Linked DNA regions of Homo sapiens: all the other regions are linked to region 1. Evidence: fine-mapped expression QTL. A gene starts in region 1. Each other region holds a variant in brackets. All regions are shown on one strand. Distances are between the middles of the regions. Region 1 holds the start of FNDC3A (fibronectin type III domain containing 3A). Region 2 overlaps FNDC3A (fibronectin type III domain containing 3A). Region 3 holds the start of LOC107984559 (a long non-coding RNA gene). Region 4 overlaps FNDC3A (fibronectin type III domain containing 3A). Region 5 has its middle 160 kb from the start of FNDC3A.

Region 1 (5,108 bases):
TAAAAAATTTAAATATAAGATTTAATATTAAAATTTTAACAAGATGTTTCTCCTGTCATCATCCCTTCTTCCCACTAACTGGTGTGATTAGAAAGCAAGATTAGTAGGCTACAAAGCTAAAAGCAACATTTCAGGTTATATTTCATAAAAGATGTGGTAAAAATCCTTCATCACTGTTTTCTGTTGGGCCACCATCTGTCTCAGTGAGTACTTCATCTCATTACTTAAGAAAAATTAATTCAACCAAGAAAATATCCAAAAGACAGGGGATTCAACTCACTTGAACATTTGTGGGTGACACAAGATGACAAGAGTTAGTAAATACGCAAAAACTAAATATTTATCCAAACATAAGATCAGAACCACAAAACTCAATTCGTTTCTGCCTAACATATGGCTCAAACTCCTGAGTGGCGTATGTTTAGTACTGGAGCTGGTAACAGCATGGTGATAAAATATTATAGTAAGAGTTCAACTGTTATTTCATTCCTACAATACAGAAGCATACACACTTTGGTTTCAAGAACTAAAAAACACAGACCACAGTAAGAAGCAAAATAATTACGTTGTTCGGTTTTAAAAACCCATAGTGAACACATAATGATTATACCGCAAAAAGAAAAAAAAAATCTCATCAGCCTGCGACTCTTATTTAATAGATGGTCAGACACAAAGGTGTCCAAAGGAACTTACGTAAAATCTCACAAAAGAAAATCTCGAATTCACAATCTCTAGCACCCCCAGCAAATCATCGCATTCCACCCTCTAAAATATCCCAAGGCTTGTAACGCTAACAGTTGAATAAAAGAACAATTAACGACCACATCCATTAAAACAGTCCCTCTTCTGCTCGCAATCTGACAGCGAAATTATCTGTTCATTTTCCTTTACCTAACACATGACGTCGTTTCCAAAGCCGTGTCAAAAGTTCGAAGATCCAGGTTGTTAAAACCGGGCGAGGACTGCAGCCTCGAGTCCACCTCCCGACTGAACAGGTGGTTAACTCGCCCGGGGAGAGGAACTGCCAGGTACTGGAAGCAGCCACGCAGGATCAAACAGAGGGCGGGTTTTCGAGGTTTTAACCCCAAGATGAGCGGGGAAAACTCTCTTCAGAAAAGCGTTCAAGTTCGGCGGCTGCCGGGCGGCCAAAGCCGAAGGCGCCGCGGGTGCTGGGCGATCCTCTCAGGAGGATTCCGCCCCAGCCCCCGCCCCCGCCCCCGCCCCCGAGCCCTCCGGAGCTACGCGGCTCGCCGCGGGGAGGAGGCGGGGGACAGAGAGAAGGGCCGCCCGCGCACCAGCGCCACCTCCCTCGGGCTAGATGCCGCCTCCTCTTGGGCTGGATGGCGCCCCCGGCCGCGCCCCCGCAAGCGTGTCCTGGCTAGGCTCGGCCCCGGCAGGTGCCCGACTAGTAGACCGGTCCTGTCCCCGGCCCCACTGCCCCTCTGCACCTCTGCCCACAGCGCGCCCACAGAAGGGGGTGGTCCGCGCCCCTCGACGGGGCCGAGCCCTGGAGAGTGCCCCGGCCCTCAGTCCCAGCCTAACGGTTTCCGCGGCGCCTCCTCCGGGGCGGGACGGGGTTGGGACGGCTCGGTGTCCCCCGCCTTTCGCGGAGGGAGTGCCCGCGCTCTCACCTCCGAGTCACGCCGTTCTGAGGCAGAAGGCGGCTCCTCTGGCGCCTCTTCTTAGGGTTCCTGATCGTTGTCTCTCTACCTCAGCTGCAGAGTCAGCTCTCAGGGCCGCCGCGGCCGCCGGCGCGCTGACTGTTGGGGTTGTTTCCTGGCAGTGACGCCGCCGCCTCAGCCCCGCTCTTCGCTCCCTCTCCGCGTAGCTCCCGCTTTCTGTTTCACCCGAGGGACCACGAACGCCGCCGCCGCCATGCTTACTACGGAGCCGGGAGGAGGAGCCCGAAGTCGGCGCGCCGAGTGCGGCTGCGCGGGCCCCGCCGACGGAGCCCGCGGCCGGGACCCCGAACCCCCGCCTCGAGCCCGCCGCGCCGGGGCTCTCTCACCGGAACGCGAGTCCCCGCGGGGCCACCGGCGCGTGGCGGCTGAGCGGCCGCGTTTGGCTCCCGGAGCGCCCACACCCTCTCGGGCTTCCGGCTTTCTCCCGAGGCCCGGCTGCGCCTGGCTTGTGGTAGCATCCGCTGTGGCCAGGCTCGGAGCTACACTCAGGAAAAGTGGAGTTAATGGAGGTTCCTAGAGACACTCACACAATTCTCAATCCACATTTCAAAAGGCTCCCCTGAGACGCACCCTGTCGGCCCCTTTCCGAAAGCACGCGAACTTAAGGCTGGCAGGTGCTTTAAAAGACACTCCTCCCAAGGACTAGGAAGCCTCTGAAATGGGCTTGGAAGTTTCTAATCCCAAAGACTTCGAACCCAGGATCTGGATAGCAAGCAAAAATATTTAGATATTTACTCAGTTGAAAACGTGGGGGGTGGCTTCGTGGTCTCTTCGCCAGCCAAATCGCGTGGAAAACCACGACCTCAATTTTTACAACAGCACGAAGACTTACAAGTGAGCGTAGCAGCGACTTCCTGGAACCTCAAACAATGTGGGACGCTGCAATAATGCCTGAGGGCTTTTGACTTACAGTTGCCGCCGGAGACCTGGGGAGGGGGTAGTACTTGGGCCGGTGAGTCCAGCCTCAGGAACTGTCCTTTCAAAAATGGTGATGGATGTAACAAGTTGCATGTCTGGGCTTTATTTCAGTGTATTAATTGTGCGATCTTTTAAAATAGCTGTATTTTTAAAACTGTTTTACAGAAATCTCTTTAAAATGTGATTATTCTCTATATTCTTAAAGAATACAATGGCTAATTAAATCCTTTGTTGATAACTGACTCTCAAACCGATATCTTGGCCATACGTTTAAGTCCCAGAGGATTGCTGCGGTGTATAGAATCCCTACTTTGGTGCTCTCTTTTTTTCCCTCTTTGGAATGTTCTCATCACCTCTTCTAAAATCCTTCACTGCTTTTCATCTCCTCATCTGCCTCTATCCACTCTGATCCTTCCTCTTATTCTTTCTGCTTTACTGTTTATTTTTCATTCTTCTCTCCTTTCTCGGCTGGTTTTCTCTGCGGCTCCAGGTGAAGATTGATGGGATGTTTATGTCCACAGCCAGCTAATGAGAGGTTTCTTTTCTTCTGGTTGTAAATAGGGCAGTGGTATCTTGAGATATTTTCATTGCTCTTCACTATCAGAAGTTCTTTCCCTGTGAGAGATGTTTCCTTTTCTTAACTTTTGGATTTGGCCCTCTTCGAGACAGCTGGCAAGTTGATCTTGGAATAATTGAAGTATAACTGTATATTGTTTCAAAGTATGAGGATTTTATCAGAGTGTGGGCGAATGGGGTGGCTTCCCCATCTTACTGCCCAACTATGCTTGGTCTGAGACTAAGATAGTGGTTTCCAAACTTACCGCTAAGCTAATACTTTCCTACTCTGCTTCCTACTCAGGAGCTTTTTGAAAATACAGAATCCTGCAATCTACCCCCTCAAGATTCTGATTCCTTTGTCCAGGGAGAGGCCAAGACATGGCACTTTTAAAAACTATATTTAAAAAAATATGTTTGGGACATGCCTACATGTAAAGGCAGAGTAAAGAAGATCAGCTGTTTTTGAAGGAGATTAACACATAATTTAAGAATGTTATTGAAGACCTAGAGATTGTAGTCAATAATATGCAATGCAGTAAGGTGAAGTAAAGTGAAGACCAAGGAATTTATGGCCTTTGGAGAGAAGAAAACCCACACATAAATGACCCTAGCATGTGCACCAGTATGAGTTCTCTGGGAACAGAGAGAGGGTCAAGAAATTATGTTGGCTTTGAACAAGTTCTCTTCTCAATGCTTCACTTTTTTTTTATCAATAAAATGGGAGCCATTTTCAATCCTCATCTTTCTTGGCCTCTCAACAATACTCAACACTTTGACCACTATTCTTTCTTAAACATTTCTTCTTCCTTTGACACTGCATTTTCTTGGTTTTCCTCCTTAGTTTCCTAGGCACTGCTTCTCTGATTCCTTTGCATATTCCTGCTGGTCTCCCTAACTATTAAATATAACAGTACCTTAAAATTCAGTTTTAGATTCTTTTCTGTTTTCATTGTAATCTCTTGGCCTAAGCAGCATCACCCACGCCAATGGCTTTAGTTATCATCTATATGCCAGTGATCTCCACATATATGCCTCCAGCCCAGACCTTTCCTCTAAATTCCAAATCTGATCCACTAGTCAAAGTTTGACCCTACCTCTAAATTCCAAGCTTCACTGACATGGCCACTTAATATCTCAAAGTTGCAAAGTTTAGTCCAACTGAGTTCATGAACACTTGTTTTCCTTATCCCCCATCTCTCTAGTTATTCAAATCAAATATCTAGTAGTCAGTAACCGCTGATGTCTCCCTCACCTCCATTCTTCCATTCTCCATATTTGTTGCAGCACTAACTCCTGGCAATTTTATTTCTAAAATCTAATTGGTCTACTTCTTTCCAATCACCACCAATCTAATTCGATCTCACTGTATACAATCTGGGATCCTCCATTCAGTCTCCATTTTGCAGCCAAAATTATCCTCTAAGAAAGCAAATGAGACTATGTCACTACTCCAAAAATCTCCTTAAACAGTTTCTCATTGCTTTAGGATAAGTCTAGAATTCTTAAGGCAGCCTAAAAGACCATACGAGGTCTGGCCTTACCTGCCTTTTCCAGCCTCATCTCACACCATTTTCACCTTGTTTCCTGGGCAGACTTCCTGGTCTTCTTTTAGTTTCTCAAAAATGCTATGATCCCAACAACCAAAGGCTCTATGTACATGCCATTCTCTCCTTTAGTTATCCTATCTCTTACTCATCCTTCAGGTCTCAGCTTGAAAGCGACATCCTTGGGAAAAACATTTCTGACCTCCCAGATACATTCAAGATACCTTGTTATGTCAGCTCTCTTACCACCATATACCCTCCCCTCTTATGACTTACCACAGCTTGTAACTACATTTTGGTATGTGTAACTACTAGGTTAATGTCTGTTGCTCCCCACATTAGGATAAAGACCATGTCTATTTGGGCCTGCACAGTGCCTGGCACATAGAAGCTACCCAATAAATAT
Region 2 (5,108 bases), 230 kb before region 1:
CAGGAAAAAGGGAAAATCAGGTGAAATGTATAGGTATTTAATTAGTCTTTGGAGTGGTATAAAAGCTTATTCTTTTTAAAAGTTGTAACAAACATTGGCAACACTCCACTCTATCTCACTGCTATTCTTGCTTTATCAGAAAGCTATCTTTGAAACCTCTTGGCTAGGAAGGTGACAATTCCTCTAGGTTTCCATTATAACTTCATGCCTAATGTCATATTTACAGCACTGCATTATGACTATTATTAATACTATTATTGTAAAAGCCTCCTTATTAGTCTTTCTAGTTCTGCCCTTGTCCTACTGTAGTTTCAACACTATAGTCAAAACAACGTTGTGTCTGATCACGTGAATACCCTGGTCAAAATCCTCCACTGTCTTCTCATTTCACGTGGAGTAAAAGCCACAGTATGGCCTATTATGCCTTACGTCACTCCATACCACCTATAGGCCCCTTAGGATTAACTATCCGACCTTATCAACTCTTCCCTTTGCTCTCTCCATCCAGTCATATTGGCTCCTTTATGTTCATCAGATTTAATAGGCATGTTCCTGCCTCAGCGTATCTTCTTGGAACACTCTTCTCTCCATAGTCATCTCCTCTGGGCCATGCTGAAATGTCAGCTGAGTGCCCCAAATGAAATAACACTCAGTGCCCTCCCCCTCCACTCCCTATTTCTTTTATCCAATTTTGTTTTTTCTCCATTACACTTATATCTGACAATATATTGTCATGTTTACTTGCTTATAGTGTCTTCTTTTCCACCAGAATGTAAGTAAGCTCCATGGAGGCAAGGGACTTTTTGTTCAGTGCTATATCCTGAGTGCCTGGCACAGAATTCAATGAATACTTATCAGATAAATGAATAATCTGTTCAAGTGTAGTTCATACTGAAAAGATTTGGAATCTTGAGATCTCTGGAACATAATATATACTGAATAAATATTTATGAATTAAAAGGTAAAGATGGCCAAATCTTACACTGAAAATACATAAAAATTAAAAAAGGGTAAAAATATGCATCCACACATTAATATCTTGGTACATACCTGTTTGAATTCTGAATCTTTTCCCAACATAACTTGAAGACTGTAAATAACTGGATCACCTTTCATTGGCTGTAAACACTCCCATGTAATTTCACAAATGTGATCATTTACTTTCTCTATTTTGGGGGCTGTAGGAAACAAATATAAATAATATCTGTTCCACTTGATTTTTAATTTGGTACATCATGCAGACACTTGTCTTAATAAAAATCAACAAATATTTAAAATCCACTTATAAACTTGAAATAAGTATCAGTGAATTTTTGAAATTTGCATCCAAAGAGGTTAAAATCAGCACTCTTGTATTCTAAGATATGGGATCTCACTCTGTCACCCAGCCTGGACAACAGTGGTGCGATCATAGCTCAATGCAGCCTCAGCCTCCTGTGCAGCTACACACACAGGCATATGCTGCCATGCCCAGCTGATTCAAAATTTCTTTTGTAGAGAGGCAGGTCTCAGTATGTTGCCCACGTTGGTCTCAATACTCCTGGCCTTAAGTGAGCCTCCCACTTCAGTCTCCCAAAGCACTGGGCTTATAGGTGTGAGCCACTGTGCCCTGCTTATAGTCAGCACTCTTCTTAAAGCTAAGAGACACTAAACTTGATGAGCAAACAGAAAAATGACTCAGTGAAACTCAATATTATTAGAAAGACTAGTCAAGAAGAGTTCTGCTGTTTAACAAATGATAGGTTTAAGTACATGATCTAGGATATGGTTCTAGAAGTCTCTGTGATTAGTCTTCAGAGCAATTAACTTTATAGACTTTTCAGCTAAAAATAGAGTGTAGCCCTTGCCAGAGTCACTTTAAAATAAGAACCCCTCTAAAATTAAAAGATAAATGTATATACAAATGTGTGTAAATATGTGTACATGTGTGTGTAAAACTAATTGAAAAACCCACATTAATGAAGAATTTGTTTTGCTTAACAGATGACCAAGCTTTCCTTCTGAAATCCAAATGAATGTAATATCAATAACTCAAAACGTTTAAACAACCAGAGTTTGTGATTTTTTTCTTTAAGCAAATGACCTCATTAGAAAACCAGCCTTCCTATTCAATTTAGTATTTTTATGCTA[C/A]ATTATTAAAAACATCAGTGACAAAAGCCAGTACTTGTCTGAATATGAGCGTGCCAGATAAAACAGCTTTTATTATTGAGTGGAACTCTCAGTAGAGTTGGGCTTGCCTATACGATTTTGTATAACTGGTGGACATATACTGGATGCTAAATTTTAATATCAGTAAACAAAGCATTTATGAAAATACATTAAAAAGTAATTTATTATAAAGAAAATAAGTTCAGGATGTATAACTTACCTTTCAAGGCAGCTGGGACAGATTTTGGAGTAGTGAAAATATATTCTTGGGAGAGGGGACCTTCCCCAGCTTCATTACAAGCTTGAATACAGAATTTATAGGATGTTGACTCATTAAGTCTTTGTACTTTGTATGTATGACATGGTCCTCTGTATAGGGATACAAACCTAAAATGGAAATAACTATTAGATAAACCTTATACTACCTTATGATACCTTATTAAAGTGTTTTACAAACTAGTATAAAAACACAGTTATGAACATTATTTAGGAGTGATAAGTTACCCCAAAAGTTTGATGCCAGGAACTCTATGTCACTTAAAATAAATCTGTTTTTCATCAGATTAAGAAAAATAGGATATTTGGTAAATTTCCCAATTTGACATGATTTACCAAAAGTCTGTTACTAAATTTCATGTCCGACCATAACTGTTTCTTCTCAGGCTTCCGGTTTAGCTTTGTTTCTGAATACTGTTTTGTTAATGTACATTTTAAAAGATGCTCAGAACATCACAATTTTCATTACAAATTATTTCTAACTAAAGTCATATTGATAAAATTTGCCAAGTATGGCATAGAGACCTGAGCTATGAGATTAAGTTTCTATTTTAATCTTCCTTGTCTTTATCTGGAAAAAAGAGAATTCTCAATTCCCAGGCAGATTTTTAGTTGACTTGGTGACGTTTTTTTAGAGATTTACAAAAGCAGTATGATAATATAAAATTTCCAATACATTACCCACTTGAACTGTTCAATGAAGTTGAATATCATACATATTTCTCCTAATATGTTATCTATAAGTTGAATGCATCCCATTATTTTTGATTGGATGTTTCTAAAATTTTTGGAAATTAGAGAATGAATAATGAATGCTTATTCAATGCTAACAGTCTGAAAATTGTAGCCAAGTTAAAAATAAAGAAATATTTAATGACAGGAAGAAACAGTACTTCCAATAAGCAGTAATTGGATAAGCCTTGCCTTTTCAACCTCTAAATTTTTTTTTAATGACAGGAAAAAAAAATAGTGGTAATACCACTGTTTAAAAAAGCTGAACAATGACAAAATCTGGATCAGGGAACAACTAAAGTATCATTATGATACCATCCCACAGCAAGTGTATATAGTTGTGAAAATCAAAGGGAATGAAAGTAATCAAAGATATTAAATTGATTTAATTTATTAAATGTGTGCATTAAACTTAACAGTATCATAAAAGGTTTTAATTTCTTTATTTTCCACAACCAAAGGCCATGAGCCATATTCATACCCCATAACAATTCTCTAGATGCTAGCTGAATATTAAGTTGGAAGTTCTATAATAGAATTTATATCTAATAGAATCTTTATTCTATTATCTTTCAACCAAACACTAATTAGACCTGTTTCCAGTAAGCCTTCTTGCACTACCCCAAATGTATGCTAGAAAGGGGAGGAAAAAAATTTAAACAATTAATTTGTCCAGTAATAATAACATATATTAAAGATAAATGGCTATACCAAAAACCTGTACAAGGCAAATAATCTCTTTGTAGAGATAAGGCTACAAAGATTACATAAAATTCTGCCAAGAACAAAGGCTAACATTCATCGATACAGATTTTAGGAAATGATCACGTTTGTTCTGTGTAATGTTCTTACTGGTGATATACTAGTATACAAAATTATTCCATATGTTATTTTAAATGTATAAGTATTTCTGATAGAGAGTGGTTATGTACAAGCACCATGAATATTTCATTGTTGAATACCTGGCTAAGATACAAACAACACAGAAAAGTAAATCTTGGGAAAAACTGTTACTAGTATTCTGAGTCCATCAGATTTGGAAATTGTTTCTAATATATTCAGTGAAAAGTAGAAAAGCAAAATTCAAAATTCTTAAAATATTAAAGGATTAACAGCTGTGGGAGGTATGTGGCATTGCTTATATGGAATATAATGTGAATAAATAGCCCTAGTTGGCATTAGAATGACTGTTACAAATATTCAGAGTTAACACTGTAATTAAAATACATGATTTAGTGTGGCAGTATATGGCACATTATATAGGAATAGTACAACATGTACATGAAGATGTGAAAGAGGCACAGAAAGAACCTGAATGAAATTAGGTTCTTTCTAATTCAAAGATTAGCAAAGATTAGCAACAGTGATTAGCAAAGGGACTAGATAATTAATCACAGAATCTAACTGAGATCACACAGTGAAAAACTGAACTGTATTCATTTAGCGTGCAGGCCCTGTGTCAGGAATCTGGAAAAGACTGAAACATAATCTCTGCCCTCAAGGATCTCAGAGGCCAGGAACGATCATAATCATTTACTATAAAATTGTTTCAGGGCCGGGTGCAGTGGCTCACGCCTGTAATCCCAGCACTTTGGGAGGTCGAGGCAGGTGGATCGGGAGGTCAGGAGATGGAGACCATCCTGGCCAACATGGTGAAACTCCGCCTCTACTAAAATACAAAAAATTAGCCGGGCGTGGTGGTGCGCACCTGTAGTCCCAGCTACTTGGGAGGCTGAGGCAGGGGAATTGTTTGAACCTGAGAGGCGGAGATTGCAGTGAGCCGAGATCGCGTCACTGCACTCCAGCCTGGTGAGAGTGAGACTCCGTCTCAAAAAAAAAAAAAAAAAAAATTGTTTCGGTCAGGCACAGTGGCTCATGAGTTGTAATCTCAGCACTCAGTGAGGCTGAGCGGGGAGGACCACTTGAGCCCAGGAGTTCGAGACCAGTGTGAG
Region 3 (5,108 bases), 110 kb after region 1:
TGACGGCAGTTCTACCAGGCCTAATCGCCACTCATAAGTAAAGGCAGGCTATGCTATAGTACCTTCCACATCTATCATTGAGGCTACTGCTCTGTCCCCCCTCTACTACCTCTCAGCAAGCCAAACTCATTGCCTTAACTCGAGCCCTCACTCTTGCAAAGGAATTGCATGTCAATATTTATGCTGACTGTAAATATGCCTTCCATATCCTGCACCAGCATGATGTTATATGGGCTGAAAGAGGTTTCCTCACTGTGCAAGGGTCCTCCTCCATCATTAATGCCTCTTTAATAAAAACTCTTCTCAAGGCCACTTTACTTCCAAAGGAAGCTGGAGTCATACACTACAAGGGCCATCAAAAGGCATCAGCTCCCATCGCTTAGGGCAATGCTTATGCTGATAAAGTAGCTAAAAAAGCAGCTAGCATTCCAACTTCTATCCCTCATGGCAGTTTTTCTCCTTCTCATCTGGTCACTCCCACCTACTCCCCAACTGAACACAAGGCAAATGGTTCATGGACCAAGGAAAATATCTCCTTCCAGTCTCACAGGCCCATTCTAATTCTGTCGCCATTTCATAACCTCTTCCATGTAGGTTACAAGCTGCTAGCCCACCTCTTACAACCTCTCATTTCCTTTCCATCGTGGAAATCTATCCTCAAGGAAATCACTTCTCAGTGTTCCATCTGCTATTCTACCACTCCTCAGGGATTATTCAGGCCTCCTCCCTTCCCTACACATCAAGCTCAGGGATTTGCCCCTGCCCAGGACTGGCAAATTGACTTTACTCACATGCCTAGAGTCAGGAAACTAAAATATCTCTTGGTCTGGGTAGATACTTTCACTGGGTGGGTAAAGGCCTTTCCCACAGGGTCTGAGAAGGCCACTGCAGTCATTTCTTCCCTTCTGTCAGACATAATTCCTCGGTTTGGCCTTCCCACCTCTATATAACCTGATAACGGACCAGCCTTTACCAGTCAAATCACCCAAGAAGTTTGTCAGGCTCTTGGTATTCAGTGAAACCTTCATACCCCTTACTGTCCTCAATCTTCAGGAAACATAGAACGGACTAATGGTCTTTTAAAAACAAACCTCACCAAGCTCAGCCTCCAACCTAAAAAAGAGGACTCTGTCAAGGATAGAGCTCAAAAACTCACCAACCAAGCAAGTAATTACGCGGAACCCCTTTGGGCACTCTCTACTTGGATGTCCTGGGTCCTCCCAATTCTTAGTCCTTTAATACCCATTTTTCTCCTTCTTTTATTCAGACCTTGTGTATTCCATTTAGTTTCTCAATTCATACAAAACTGTATCCAGGCCATCACCAATCATTCTATAAGACCAATGTTTCTCTAACAACCCCACAATATCACCCCTTACCCCAAAATCTTTCTTCAGTTGAATCTCTCCCACTGCAGGTTCCCACACTGCCCCTAATTCCGCTTGAAGCAGCCCTGAGAAACATCACTCGTTATCTCTCCATACCACCCCCAAAATTTTTTGCTGCTCCAACACTTCACTATTTTGTTTTGCTTTTCTTATTAATATAAGAAGATAAGAATGTCAGGCCTCTGAGCCCAAGCTAAGCCATCATATCCCCTGTGACCTGCACATATACATCCAGATGGCCTGAAGCAACTGAAGATCCACAAAAGAAGTGAAAATAGCCTTAACTGATGATATTTCACTATTGTGATTTGTTTCTGCCCCACCCTAACTGATCAATGTACTTTGTAATCTCCCCCACCTTTAAGAAGGTTCTTTGTAATTCTCCTCACCCTTGAGAATGTACTTTGTGAGATCCACCCCCTGCCCACAAAACATTGCTCCTAACTCCACCGCCTATCCCAAAACCTGTAAGAACTAACGATAATCCCACCACCCTTTGCTAAACAGCCCTGTTGCTCACACAAAGCCTGTTTGGTGGTCTCTTCGCACAGACACTTGAGAAAGGGTTCAGTAAAAAAAGAAAAAACAAAAAAAACAAAAAACAGTCCCTGGAAATAGGCAATTCCAGAGCCACTGGTGCGCAGAAGCTGGGCTATCTCGTGCCAACAAACGAAAGGGAACCACAGGAGCAGAGCAAATGTGGGCAATGTTTTGAAGACAACAGACTATAAAGAGAAGGAAGCAGAGCTATAGAGCATAGTTAGACGCAACTGAAGATTGCTTACTGCCCTAGTCTGTTCACACTGCTCTAATAGGATACCATTGGCTTGTAAAACAACAGACGCTTATCTCTCACAGTCCCGCAGGCTAGGAAGTCCAAGATTAGGGTGGCTGCAGATTTGGTGTCTGGTGAAGGCTCACTTCCTGGTTCATACATGGCCACTTTTTGCTGTGTTCTCACATGGTTGAGGGGGCAAGGGAATCTCTCTGGGCTCTCTTTTGTAAAGGCACTAATTCCATTCATGAAGGCATCACCCTAATTACCTCCCTAAAGCCACACCTCCAAGTACCATCAAATTAGGATTAGATTTCAACATATGAATTTTGAGGGATGCAAACAGCCTGTTGCTCTTAGTTTTGCAACAGGGAAGCCAAAAGATGCTAAAAGAGGCTGAGAGGAAGGATGAGTGGAAAACATGGATCATTGTCCATATTCCTAACTAAAGCCAATCCCTTCCCCAACCTTTTTTTTTTTTTTTTTTTTAAGACGGGGTTTCTCTTCCCTCTCATTTGATCCCATCACTTCTTTCTGCTCAAGGCCACTGCTTCAGAATTCTCTTTT[C/G]TCTTGACTTAACCGTTTTTTTTCCCTTTTGCATCAGCATGCAAACCCACTAAGATTTCTTTCATTTTAAAAACAAAAAGTCTTGAACTCCCATTTCACTCTCAAGCCATTGTCTGTTTCTCCCCTTCCATTCTCAGCAAAACACCTCAAAAGAAGTTTCTTTATTAGTTGTCTCCAAGTTTTCATCTTTCTTCTTCTTCTGAATTAACTTCCATGAGCAGTGGTGGAGTGTAGGAATGTGCCCACCATTCTATTGTAACTTCCCTGTCAAAGTCATCAAAGACTTTCTGATGGCTAAATTCAATGGTCAATGAAAAGTCCTCATTTTCCATGACCCATCTGTGGCATTTGACCCATCAGTCCCTTCTCATGACATATTCTCTTCCCTTGGCCTCTAGGACATCACATTTGCCTAGTTTTTCTACTTCTTTGGCTGCTCCTTCTCCTCTTTTGCAGGTTCCTCTCCACGTCCACAACCTCTAAAAATTGGACTGTGCCAGAGACCAGTTCATCCTCTTGCCTTTTTAACTCTATATTTCCTCCCATGGTGGTTTTTCCCTAGTGTCATGACTTTAAATACCAGGCTGAACCTCTCCCCAAAACTATAGACTATATATCCACTGCCTATTTTAACATCTCACTTGGATGTCTAGTTAGCATTTAAAATTGAGCTCCTGATATTCTACCCCTGTGCCTAATCCTTCCAAAATCTTCCCCATCCCAGGAAACAGCAGCTCCATTTTTCCTGTTGCTCAGGCCCAAAGCCTCTGAGTTATCCTTCACTCTTATTTTATTCTCATACCTTACATCTGATTTTTTAGCAAATACTATTGGCCCCAACTTCAAAATATGTTCAGAATCTGATCACTTCATACCACGTCCACTGCTAACTCCCTAATGACTAAGGCCTCGTTCAGGCCACTTTCTTCTTTCTTACCCGGATTTGTTGCATCAGCCTCCTAAAAGGACTCTCTGCTTCCATCCTTGTGCCCTCCAGTTTGTTCTCAATGCAGCGGCTGAACGATCCTATTAAAATGTAATTCAGATCATATCACTCCTCTGCTCAAAATACGCCAGTAGTTTCCCATCTCACTCAGAGCAAAAGCCAATTGCCATGACCTTTAAGATCTCAGTGACTTCATTTTACTGGCTTCCTTGGTGACCCTCTCTTTCATGCACATTCTGTCCCAGGGATATCAGACCTCAGGGCCATTGCACTTGTGTCTCCTGCCTGGAATGCATGCTCCTTCACCTCCTTCAAGTTTTTGTTTAAATATCACCTTCTTATAGAAGATTTCCCTGACCACCCTATTTAAAATTTCAGCATTCTCCCCTTGACCCCTAATTATCTCTTGACTGCTTTATCTTTTCTCTTAGGGCAAGGATTTTTGTCTGTTTTGTCCATCCCCAGTGTCTAGGATATGCTTAGCAATGAGGATGCTGAATGAATGAGATTAGTAATATTGGAAGGCAGAGGGATCATTGATGGATCAAAGTTCAGAGGAGGGTGGAATCCAGGGAACATGAGCAAGGACAGATGCAAAAACTACTAAATTCTTGTTTTAAGAGTCTGAGTAGAGGAGGGAGTTGAGAAAGTTTCTGATACCATCATTTGCACATTGACTGAATCAAATCAATACCAGTGTGTCACCTTTCCTATACATTTACATTTTTAAGCCTTTTTATCTCTAATTGTGTTGGGGAAAATCTTTGTCCCTGTGTTAAAAGAATTGCATGCACTGTCAAGAAGCTCAGTGGAGATTTATTCAGAAAGCCCAGAAAGCCTTCTTGTTGGCCTTGAAATCATCTTACACCTGAGGCACACCTGATTTACTCTTGAACACATATCATTTCTGAAGCATCAAACAGATATTATTGTTGTTGTTGTTAGTATTATTATAATTACTACTGGCATGCCTGGCTGTGAGGCTGGATTAGAAGCACTGGTCTCATTGAATCCTCTTCCATCCCTTAGATTCAATACTTCATATCCTAAGGATCCAGAGCCAAAATTGTTGAGTCCTTTTTCCTCCCTGAGTGTACCTTTATCCCCCTTCAACATGAGAATCCTGCTGAGAATCCCAATAAATAATTCCAAACCCCAATCACAGATTCTCCTTGGCCTTGGGTCTTTAACACTTAAACCAAGGGAAGGGAGCAATTACATAACTGCTCAAGGACAAGTACAGGGAAGAAGGGTGGCAAAGATGGAAGAAGAGAGGATCAGGAAGAGGGCTGGATGCCTTGGGGTATAGGCAGGAACACAGGAAGTTTGGCTGTACTTCGGACAAGTGCACTTACTGGTCTCAATGGTGTTACTGATTCCATGGTGAAAAGGTCAGGACTGCATTGCTGCATATCGATCCTGAATTCTGGAA
Region 4 (5,108 bases), 220 kb before region 1:
CTAATTTTTGTATTTTTAGTAGATATGGGGTTTCCCGATGTTGGCCAGGCTGGTCCCGAACTCCTGGCCTGAAGTGATCTGCCAGCCTCGGCCTCCCCAAGTATTGGGATTACAGGTGTGAGCTACTGTGCCTAGCCAAAATTCCAAATATAAATCTGTCATTTAATAGTTTTTTGTTTTTAATTGCTTTTTTTTTTGAGACAGAGTCTCACTCTGTCGCCCAGGCTGGATGTAGTGGCATGATTTCAGCTCACTGTAACCTCCGCCTCCCAGGTTCAAGTGATTTTCCTGCCTCAGCCTCCAGAGCAGCTGGGATTACAGGCACACGCCACTATGCCCAGCTAAGTTTTGCATTTTTAGCAGAGAAGGGGTTTCACCATGTCGGTCAGGCTGGTCTCGAACTCCTGACCTCAAGTGACCCACCCACCTTGGCCTCCCAAAGTGCTGGGATTACATGCATTTACCACCATGCCTGGCCAATATGTCATTTAATAGTATAGACTTACAGACTGCTAGTGGCAGCAAATGATTTACAATAATAAGTATATATAAAAGGTCAGGTGCAGAGGCTCATGCCTGTAATCCCACCTCTTTGGGAGGCTAAGGTGGGGGAATCACTTGAGCCCGAGAGTTTGAGACCAACCTGGGAAACATAAGGGGACCCCCATCTCTATAAAAAAGTAAAAAATCAGCCTGGTATGGTGGTGTGCACCTATAGTCCCTGCTACTCAGGAGGCTGAGGCAGGAGGATCGCTTAAGCCTGGGAGGTTGAGGTTGCAGTGAGCCATGATCATACCCCTGCTCTCCAGCCTGGGTGACAGATACCCTGTCTCAAAAAAAAAGTCTGTCTATCTGTCTATACACACACATACATACAAAGGTATCTACAAATAAAGAGTACTGTTATACATGTTATAAGGCAACCTAAGAAAACATATCAGTCACACAGATAATTCAGTTTAGTTCATGGAGAGCATGGAAAGGGCCACTAAATGATAGAAACTTGAGGTTTAGCACAACTATTTATAAGAACTGAAGTAAGGATTCTGTTCCTCAAGTCCTATAGGGATTAAAAAAAGTTTTCCATGACAAATGTCATTTTTTTGCCCCCCTTTTTTGAACAAGGTTAATTCATGTCGACAACAACAAAATAATGACAAAGCTTCACCATTCTAGCATGCTGAATGGATTTTATTTAAAATAAAACTGTAAATAGTGTACTTATAGTACATTATTTATCAGTACTGCTCTCTGGTAGGCATAAATTTTATCTTAAAATCTGGAATAGCTTTAGAAAGGTCTAAAATGTATGTTCTCTGGAAATACGGAAAGTAAATATTTACTTAAGGTGATTTTGACAAATTATCACAAACCTGAAAATATAAATTAAGACGTAAGTATTAAAGATGCGATCCTAGTGTACTGCAGCCTTGTGAGGCTGACAAGATGGCTTCTTACAGAAAGGAATGACTTGTGTAAGAGCAGCCTAAGTATATAAATTTGACATATAAGAAATTTAGGCCGGGCATAGTGGCTCTTGCCTGTAATCCCACTACTTTGGGAGGCCGAGGTGGGTAGATCTCTTGAGCCCAGGAGTTTGAGACTAACCTGGGCAACATGACAAAACCCTCTCTCTACTAAAAATATGAAAAAATTATCCAGGTGTGGTGATGTACACCTGTGGTCCCAGCTACTTGGGAGGCTGAGGTAGAAGGGTCACCTGAGCCCAGGAGGCGGAGGTTGCAGAGAGCCAAGATCACACCACTGCATTCCACCCTGGGTGACAGGGTGAGACCCTGTTTCAAAAAATCAAACAGAAATAAATTGAAAAATAAGTTTACAGATGTAAATACAGAACCCTGTTGGAAAACAGGATTTGAAATATAGTATAGTTCACCAAAATAATGGGTAGGAGAGAACTGTCAGTTTAATTCTATAAAAATTTTAATTATACAATAGTTGAAAGAAATTGTTATTTAGCTGAGATAGGAAATTACTGCTTTGTCCTTAGGGAACCTGCTTTATTGCAGAGAGATGAGAGGTGTCATAGCTGAGTGGAAAGAGCTTTGGCTCTGGAGTCTGACAAACTAAGGTTTGTAGCTTACCTCTATCACTTATTAGTTTGTATGACTGTGGGCAAAATATTTAGCTTTCCTGAACCCGTTTCCTTAGTTGTGAAATGGAGATATCACCTACTTTGTCCACTTTTTGGAGTTATATATTAAATACATAGATAATATTTCAAAAAATACATACAAAACCAGAATAGTTTCAAGCATAAGTTTTTTTTCATTTGGGCAAAAAAAATGAATCATAATTAGTTGCCAACTGAAAGTAAATGCTACTTTAGCCTCAAAAAACTTCAATCAGCCTCAAAAACCTCAAAAACTTCAATCAGCCTCAAAAAACTTCAGTACTTATGATTTTATTTCTACTCTTAAATTGATTAAGTAAACTCTATTAACACTGCCTAAAAGGTAAACTCTAGCCCAGCTGAAGTCCAAAGTGTCACAAACTGTAAGTGGGATCTAAAAATACTGAGATTTCATAAAAATTAAGTTATGGAATATACCGACTTCTCTTGTATTTATCAATGTAGGCTTGTTAAAAATTGTAAAATTTGGAGTCATATGTTAAAGCCAAATGGCCAAATAATGGATATGATGATATATGTTAAAATGAAACATATATCACCATTGTGATTATAATTCTACCAGCACAGTCTTCTTACCCCCATTTTGTTAGCTGCACGTAGTCTGAAGCTGTATGTCTTTCCAGGAAGAAGGCTGCTCACTGTACATTCTACTTCAGAACCTTGGTAAACTTCTCTAGGTTCATCTTTTTCTATAGGAGACATTTCCACACTGTAACAGGAAATGGGTGATCCACCATCAACCAGAGGGGGTCCTAAAAGATGGAAAGATTAATGCAATTTAACAAGACGAATACTTCCTGTTCTAGCTTAATTATAATTTATTACCAAAATGGAAATTACCCCATCGTAACTGTATTTCTTTTGCTTTGGGTCTACCCTGTAATCTGGGAGGGAGGCATGGGCCAGGAGGCACAGCTGGAGTCTGCACAAGTAAAGATTCAGAGACCTGCCAAAACAAAAGCAAAAAGAAAACAAAAATGCCCCAAAACCAAATAATCA[G/AG]ATTGCTTTTGGTAAGGAAAAATAATATAAACACAAATATTGCACTGATAATTTGAAATTGTACTTGATTGTCAACAAAAAAGGAATAAAGTTCTGAAAAAAAATGAAAACCCAATTAAATAAAAACTCAAAATTTTCATAGACAAAGAAAGACATGTACTGTGCAACTACTATATACAAAGCAAGTTACTGAAAAAGAACTTCAATGAACCCTTCCTTTCCTTTTCTTTCCATAACTAAAGAAAAAAACAACTTCCAACACAATTTAATGGGCAATATTTTTGATCTTCTCCAAAAGGATCCATAAATCTCTTCTAAGGAGGGATGTTTTAAAATACTGTATATGCTGTTTGTATTGTTGTAAGGAGGTTTAGAATATTTTGGCTACTTTACTACTGTAGACTGTATTTTTAACCTAAACACTGATTTATTTATTTATTTTTAGAGATGGGGTCTTGGTATGTTGCCCAGGATGGAATGCAGTTGCTATTCACAGGTATGATTACAGCCTCAAATTCTTAGGCTCAAGCAATCCTCCCACGTCCAGAGTAGCTGAGACTATACACATTTGTCACTGCACCAAGCTTAACTTATACATTAAAAGATTATCTTTCCTTCATCCTTTCCACCTAAAAATAATTCTAAAATCAGGTAAGCTTTTCCAGTTACTTGGCATCTTTCTAGGTATTTGATACTGCTTTTAGTTTCTATGCTATATTTATATTTTAAAAAGCCTTTATTTTTAAAGACACTCTGTTAAAAACAATGCCACACTGGGCCGGGCGCGGTGGCTCACACCTGTAATCCCAGCGCTTTGGGAGGCTGAGGCGGGTGGATCACAGGGTCAGAAGATCGAGACCATCCTGGTTAACATGGTGAAACCCAGTCTCTACTAAAAATACAAAAAAGTAGCCGGGCATGGTGGCAGGCACCTGTAGTCCCAGCTACTTGGAAGGCTGAGGCAGGAGAATGGTGTGAACCCAAGAGGCAGAGCTGGCAGTGAGCCGAGATCGTGCCACTGCACTCCAGCCTGGGCAACAGAGTGAGACTCTGTCTCAAAAAAAACAATGCCACAAACTCAGTGGCATATTACTTACTTGCAACATATTAAGGTTCATACTTAACATTCTTTTTAAACACAAAATATTTGGTCATCTTTTTATCAGAAAGCTATCTATGTAAAAATGCTGTAAAATGCTATAGTAGAACAGGATTTTGTGCATGTCTATGTGTTGTTGCTTTTCTGAAATCCAGGGAGATTTTCTTACTGGATAAAATGAAGCAACTGGAGCACAAGCCAGTTGGGCAGGACTCACACTCAGTTGCACATTAGTTTCATTTTCAACAAAATGCCTATATTTCATTTTTAAAAAAGAATACTTTCATTGCATTAAATTTCATTTCAAAAAAAAAACCCAGCAATTATGAATGATCCAAGAAACCATTCTTGGTTTAATTCATTTAAAAAAAAAAAATCACTTGGCCGGGTGCGGTGGCTCATGCCTGTAATCCCAGCACTGTGGGAGGCTGAGGCCGGTGGATCACGAAGTCAGGAGTTCGAGGCCAGCCTGGCCAACATGGTAAAACCCCGTCTCTACTAAAAATACAAAAATTAGCCAGTTGTGGTGGGGGGCGCCTGTAGTCCCAGCTACTAGGGAGGCTGAAGCAGGAGAATTCTTGAACCCAGGAGGCAGAGGTTGCAGAACCCAGGAGGCAGAGGTTGCAGTGAGCCCCAATCGTGCCACTGCACTCCAGCCTGGGCGACAGAGTGAGACTGTTTCCCAAAAAAAAAAAAAATCACTCATTAATAAACATACATCCCTAGAACATTATGTCTTTATATCAATGGTACATTTTAAGTTCATTTTGGTTATTGAGTCTCTAATAATAAAATAATGGCCAACTTTTTTGAAGTAAGTAAATATTAGAAAGTAGATTAAACAGCAGATACTAT
Region 5 (5,108 bases), 160 kb after region 1:
TCAACTCACCTAAGATATGAAATATAAGATAGGAAGAACTGAAGATAGAGATGATAAAATATAACCAACACATAGTATTGATACTTGTGTGTCAAGTGTAATGATATTTAATAAATGCTTGCTAGTAAAAGCTCGTGTCATGTCACAGAGAATTTGTTACATTGGAGAAACTGACATGTAAGTCTTATGCATTTGATTTAAAATGTGTATTTGAATTTAGGCTTCTCATATAAGCAAAAACAGCATAAGAAAAATGGACTTGGCCTATAACCAGTATTAGACTGTTTAAAAGAGCTTAACATTTTAATTCATTCATTTTACAAAACCTTCTAAGTATTTGAAGAAGCTATTGCTTCTTCTGGTTGTAAGCCAGAAGCCATTTAGGCATTTGAAGGGCTGAAAAAATGAAATGCATTATTTTTATTAATGAGGCTTAAAGTGTTAAAAGGTATTTGATTAACTAATTTTGAAAGGGGAGTTCCTTGTTACAGATGCTTAGAATGTTTGATGTGAATGGATCAGATATAATAGCCCAATAACATTTTTAAGTTAAACCTCAAGTCCTTAAAGTAAACAAGGTTTTAAATTTGTATTTAATCAACTAATTTGATTTCTATCTGATAACGATAGTGTTTTCTGTGTACAAGTCCCCTCTGATATCAGAATACTCATGTTGACAGCTCACAAACCTACATGTGAAAGCTCTGGACTGGATTAGGCTAGAGTTCTCCCCAAGAGACATCAGTTTAGGATCACATAGATGGAGGCTTGGAGAAGGCTGCCCAAAACACAACTTTTCATGTAGGAGACACCTGGCATGCTGAAAGTTGTGCATCTACTCCTAAGCTGGCCTTTATCCTGACGATTGTCACCTCTGCATAAAGTTCCATACCTCTCTCTTCCAAATCAATTTGTTTGGTTGGTTTTCTGGCTACTCCCAAAATTAGGCTCTGAAATTCTCCACTTTCCCAATGACATAGCCTGTCATTCCTTTCACCACACATGCGCTCCACTTTGCAGGTTTGGAATCATTGTTTGCTGCTCAGGTTTGCTATGAAATAGAGATGGTTTCACTTTCACATCTGGTATCTTCAATTTTGCAGCTTGCTCCTGGCTCTCTTCTTAGCATCTATTATAGTGTTGTCTCTTTTTCTCATCTCCTCTCCAAACCTTGACATTTTGCTAAATTTTGGAATCAATTTCTTCAGAAGTACGTTGTGAGATTGCGTGTTGATGGCATTAGATAAAAGAGCACTGCATTTTGTGTTGCATAGCAAAAAAAGGATGGCATTTGTGTATTTTGGAGTATTGTGAGATGAATGAGCTTCCATATAATTGCAGAACTGAAGTGACAGGGACTCTTCTAATTTTTAAGGCAGGAGGGAAAACAAATTTGGACTAAAATAGGCAGACTGGAGCTGAAAGGCATCCTATTACCTGTGCATTAAGGCAGCCAACTAATCAATCTCAGACAGTCCCGCCAGCTCACATCTTCCAGGTCATCTCTGTCTTATCACTCCATTGTGTAACTCAGGACAATTTATAGCCTGCCTGTGGTTGCTTTGTGTTTATGTTTTTCGGAGTGTGTGCTGAAAAGCTCTAATTCAGCTCTTTTTGTTGAGTTCCTCATGTGTGCATTTGTTTTTTGTTTTTTGCTTTGATTATTTTGCTATAGGGAATTTACTCTGATCTTGTAACATAGGCAGATTATAGTTGCAATTTCATTTGAAATTGATACAAATATGCAAACGTAGAGTGAATGAGGAAGTATTAGATGTATTTGCTTCATCCTGCTTCTCCACCTAGGGAAAATCAATCCATGTTATTTCCACACACTCAAGATACTCTTACATATATTACAGTACCTCTCAAAATGAACTGCCTTTTCACTGAGAGCTTTTGTTTACATAGGGGACATGAATAGTTCAAAAGCCATACTAATAAAATTATACTGCAAGGACTTAGGATAATGTATTCTTTGGGAAAATCATATAATTTTGGTATAAAATTTAAGAATTATAACCAGTGAATTATTTACAATCTTGACAGTGGTAATCTGTATTAAAAAAAAATTGGCCAAGCACAGTGGCTCACACCTGTAATCCCAGCACTTTGGGAGGCCGAGGCAGGTGAATCACCTGAGGTCGGGAATTCAAGACCAGCCTGGCCAACATGGTGAAACCTCATCTCTACTTATATTATTTTTCCCCTTTATTTATGATACCCCACCATTATGTTTAGTATGTATATGATATATAAAAATATGTATATATGTTTTTAGTTTTATAATTGACATTATGCTATAGATCTCACTGTCTGTAGTGCGATCAGAATTTTACTTTTTTGTTGTTGTTGTTGAGATGGAGTTTTGCTCTTGTTGCCCAGGCTGGAGTTCAACGGCATGATCTTGGCTCACTGCAACCTCCACCTCCCGTGTTCATGCA[A/G]TTCTCCTGCCTCAGCGTCCATGTAGCTGGGGTTACAGGCATGTGCCACCACACCTGGCTAATTTTGTATTTTTAGTAGAGGTAGGATTTCTCCATGTTGGCCAAGCTGGTCTCGAACCTCTGACCTCATGTGATCTGCCTGCCTCGGCCTCCCAAACTGCTGGGATTACAGGTGTGAGCCACTGAGCCTGGCCCAGAATTTTACTTTTTTTACTTAACACTAGTTTCAGGAGCTCTATTCATGTTGCTTTATGTACCTCCAGTTTATTGTTTCTGGCTGCTGTATAGTATTCCATATGAGCTTCAGCTGTATTTTATTTATCCATCCCTTGGTTGCTGATGAGCAGCTATTTTGCCTCCCAGTATCCCTTCCCTACCATGAAATAAAATGCTGTGATGAACTTCTTTGTACCTGTCATCTTTGGATCTATGGATACTTTCCTCTGGGTTTAGACTCAAGAGTGAAACTAGATGTACTAAATTTCACTAAGTTTTGCCAATTTTTTTCTCCAGAATGGTTGCACTGGTTTTATGCTTTCACAAGCAGTGCATGAGAAAAGCCATTTTCCTACACACTTGCTAATATTGGCTATTATCTAATTTTAAAAATATTTGCCAACTTATGCATAGTATAAAGGAGTATTTTATTCTTTTTTCAATTTGCATTCCTACAATTGCTAATGCAGCTAAACATATATTTGTTAGCCATTCTGATTTCCCCTTTTATACATTGCTTATTGACATCATTTACCTGCATTTCTTTTAGAGTCCCAATCTTTTTCTTATTAATTGACAAAATTTCCTTGAAATATTAATCTTTTATGGTTTTTAACATTGCAAATATTTTCTCCCAATCTTTTATGCAATTGTTAAGTTTTTCTGTCATGCTATTTGTTGAACAGAAATCCTTAATATTGATGTAGTCAAATTCATAATTTTTGCCTAGTGCTTAATTTTTTTGGAATCTTGCTTGGGAATATAGTCATACTCCAAGGCCACAGAGATAGTCTCTGGTACTTTTTCTATTTATGTCTTTAAGCCATTTGGAGTGTTTCTTTATATAGTAGGGATAAATTTTATTATTCTCTCTATATAAAAAAGGTCAGAATTTTCCAAAGTATTTTCCATGGAAAACTAATTATGTGAGATATGAAATGGTTAAGAGAAAAAGAGTTTTCTGGTCCAATAAGTTTGGGATAAATCTGGTTAAACAGATTTTTATCTTACAGATCTTTTCAGAGTCTTTACTGTGCTAATATATATTTCGAATATTAAGGAGTGGGCAAACTACCAGTCCATGGGCCAAACATGGCCCACAGCCTGTTTTTGTACAGCTTCCAAGCTAAGAATATTCATTATATTTTTAAAGGGTTGTGAAGAAGTGGAAGGAGGAGGAGGGAGAGAAGGTGAAGGGAGAAGAGGAAGAGGAGAAGAAGACCCTATATAACCCACAAAGCCTAAAATATTTACTATCTGGTCCTTCACGGGACAAATTTGCTGATCCCTAATCTATAGTATGCCAAATGGCCAAAAATATATTTATCCCAGAATCCTTTGGTAGAAGAAGTTCTCATGGTCTTCAGCTTTCTTTTTTTTCCTTCCTTCTTTCTTTCTTTCTTTTTTTCTTTCTTCCTTTCTTTCTTTCTTCTTTCTTTCCTTTCCTTTTTTTTTTTTTTTTTTTTTTTTTGATGGAGTCACACTCTGTCACCCAGGCTGGAGTGCAGTGGCACAATCTCAGCTCACTGCAACCTCCATCTCCCAAGCAATCCTCCTGCCTCAGCCTCCCAAGTAGCTGGGATTACAGGCACGCACCACCACACCTGGCTAATTTTTGTATTTTTAGTAGAGATTGGGTTTTGCCATGTTGGCCAGGCTGGTCTCAAGCTCCTCACCTCAGGTGATCCACCCTCCTCGGCCTCCCAAAGTGCTGGGATTACAGGGTGAGCCTCCGTGCCTGGCCGATCTTTGTGTTCTGCAAGGTAAACACCAGGAAAAATTAGTCTGGGCAAGATGGACACAGTATCAACAAAAGCATTAATCTGGTAAATTTCCAGTTAATTTGAAAGCTGTAGAATCACGAAATTATTAAAGTTAGATTAATTGATCTTAGTGGCCAGTCTGTTCCAACCTTCTACTCAATGCCAATCCAATCATGACAATGTCTGATGTTTCTTTTCACTTACACAACCATAGAAGGGAAACTCCTTTGAAAACAGAACTCCGCATTTTGCATTTCTCTCCCTGTGACTGTTCTGCCACCTACACTTCAGTATGTTTGTGCCCCTGCTTCAACCCACTCATTCGGAACTTTAAATTCCATTTTAATTTTTCCATTGCGTCAGTGTTGCTAAAAATACTTCATTAATGCGTCTTATATTTCACAGCCTGGGTCTCTTATTATTATTTTTTTTCCTGATGTTTCTTAAAAGATCTAAGATCATTTTCTTGTCCTATGTTTTAAAATATACTTTGAGAAAAAGAGATCAGAAAATATTTATGATGTGAATTTCTAATAGCTGAAAAGAATTATGGAGTGGAATAGCCTAAGAAGAAAAAGAACAATTGACCAGGGTATAATATGCAGAAGTTTAAAAACTGTGTATTCTGAAAAAGCTTCTGCACAGCAAACAATGAACAAAGTGAAGAGGCATCCTACAGAATGGG

Evidence for each region. PIP is the estimated chance that this variant, and not a neighbour inherited with it, causes the effect. A credible set is the group of variants that fine-mapping cannot tell apart.
Region 2: its variant is the best candidate, but not a certain one, in a credible set for the expression of FNDC3A in whole blood (INTERVAL, PIP 0.88).
Region 3: its variant is the best candidate, but not a certain one, in a credible set for the expression of FNDC3A in whole blood (INTERVAL, PIP 0.72).
Region 4: its variant is the best candidate, but not a certain one, in a credible set for the expression of FNDC3A in whole blood (INTERVAL, PIP 0.75).
Region 5: its variant is the best candidate, but not a certain one, in a credible set for the expression of FNDC3A in fibroblasts (GTEx, PIP 0.56).

What each region holds. Positions count from the first base shown.
Region 1 is chr13:48,972,701-48,977,808 of GRCh38, reverse strand. It overlaps FNDC3A (fibronectin type III domain containing 3A), which reads right to left and starts at 1,897. Exons shown (of 26, transcript NM_001079673.2): 1 at 1,632-1,897. RefSeq lists enhancers at 863-962, 1,123-1,742, 1,633-1,932, 1,743-2,362, 2,633-2,692 and silencers at 1,103-1,582, 1,913-2,182.
Region 2 is chr13:49,199,227-49,204,334 of GRCh38, reverse strand. FNDC3A (fibronectin type III domain containing 3A) reads right to left here. Exons shown (of 26, transcript NM_001079673.2): 24 at 2,369-2,535; 25 at 1,051-1,178. Among named protein-coding and RNA genes, the nearest start is that of MLNR, 19 kb to the left of the region's middle. The variant C/A (reference allele first, on the strand shown) is at 2,131.
Region 3 is chr13:48,863,546-48,868,653 of GRCh38, reverse strand. It overlaps LOC107984559 (a long non-coding RNA gene), which reads right to left and starts at 3,729. Exons shown (of 3, transcript XR_001749987.2): 1 at 3,668-3,729. The variant C/G (reference allele first, on the strand shown) is at 2,731.
Region 4 is chr13:49,189,008-49,194,115 of GRCh38, reverse strand. FNDC3A (fibronectin type III domain containing 3A) reads right to left here. Exons shown (of 26, transcript NM_001079673.2): 18 at 2,996-3,101; 19 at 2,732-2,907. Among named protein-coding and RNA genes, the nearest start is that of MLNR, 29 kb to the left of the region's middle. The variant G/AG (reference allele first, on the strand shown) is at 3,155.
Region 5 is chr13:48,813,314-48,818,421 of GRCh38, reverse strand. No RefSeq gene overlaps it. Among named protein-coding and RNA genes, the nearest start is that of FNDC3A, 160 kb to the left of the region's middle. The variant A/G (reference allele first, on the strand shown) is at 2,445.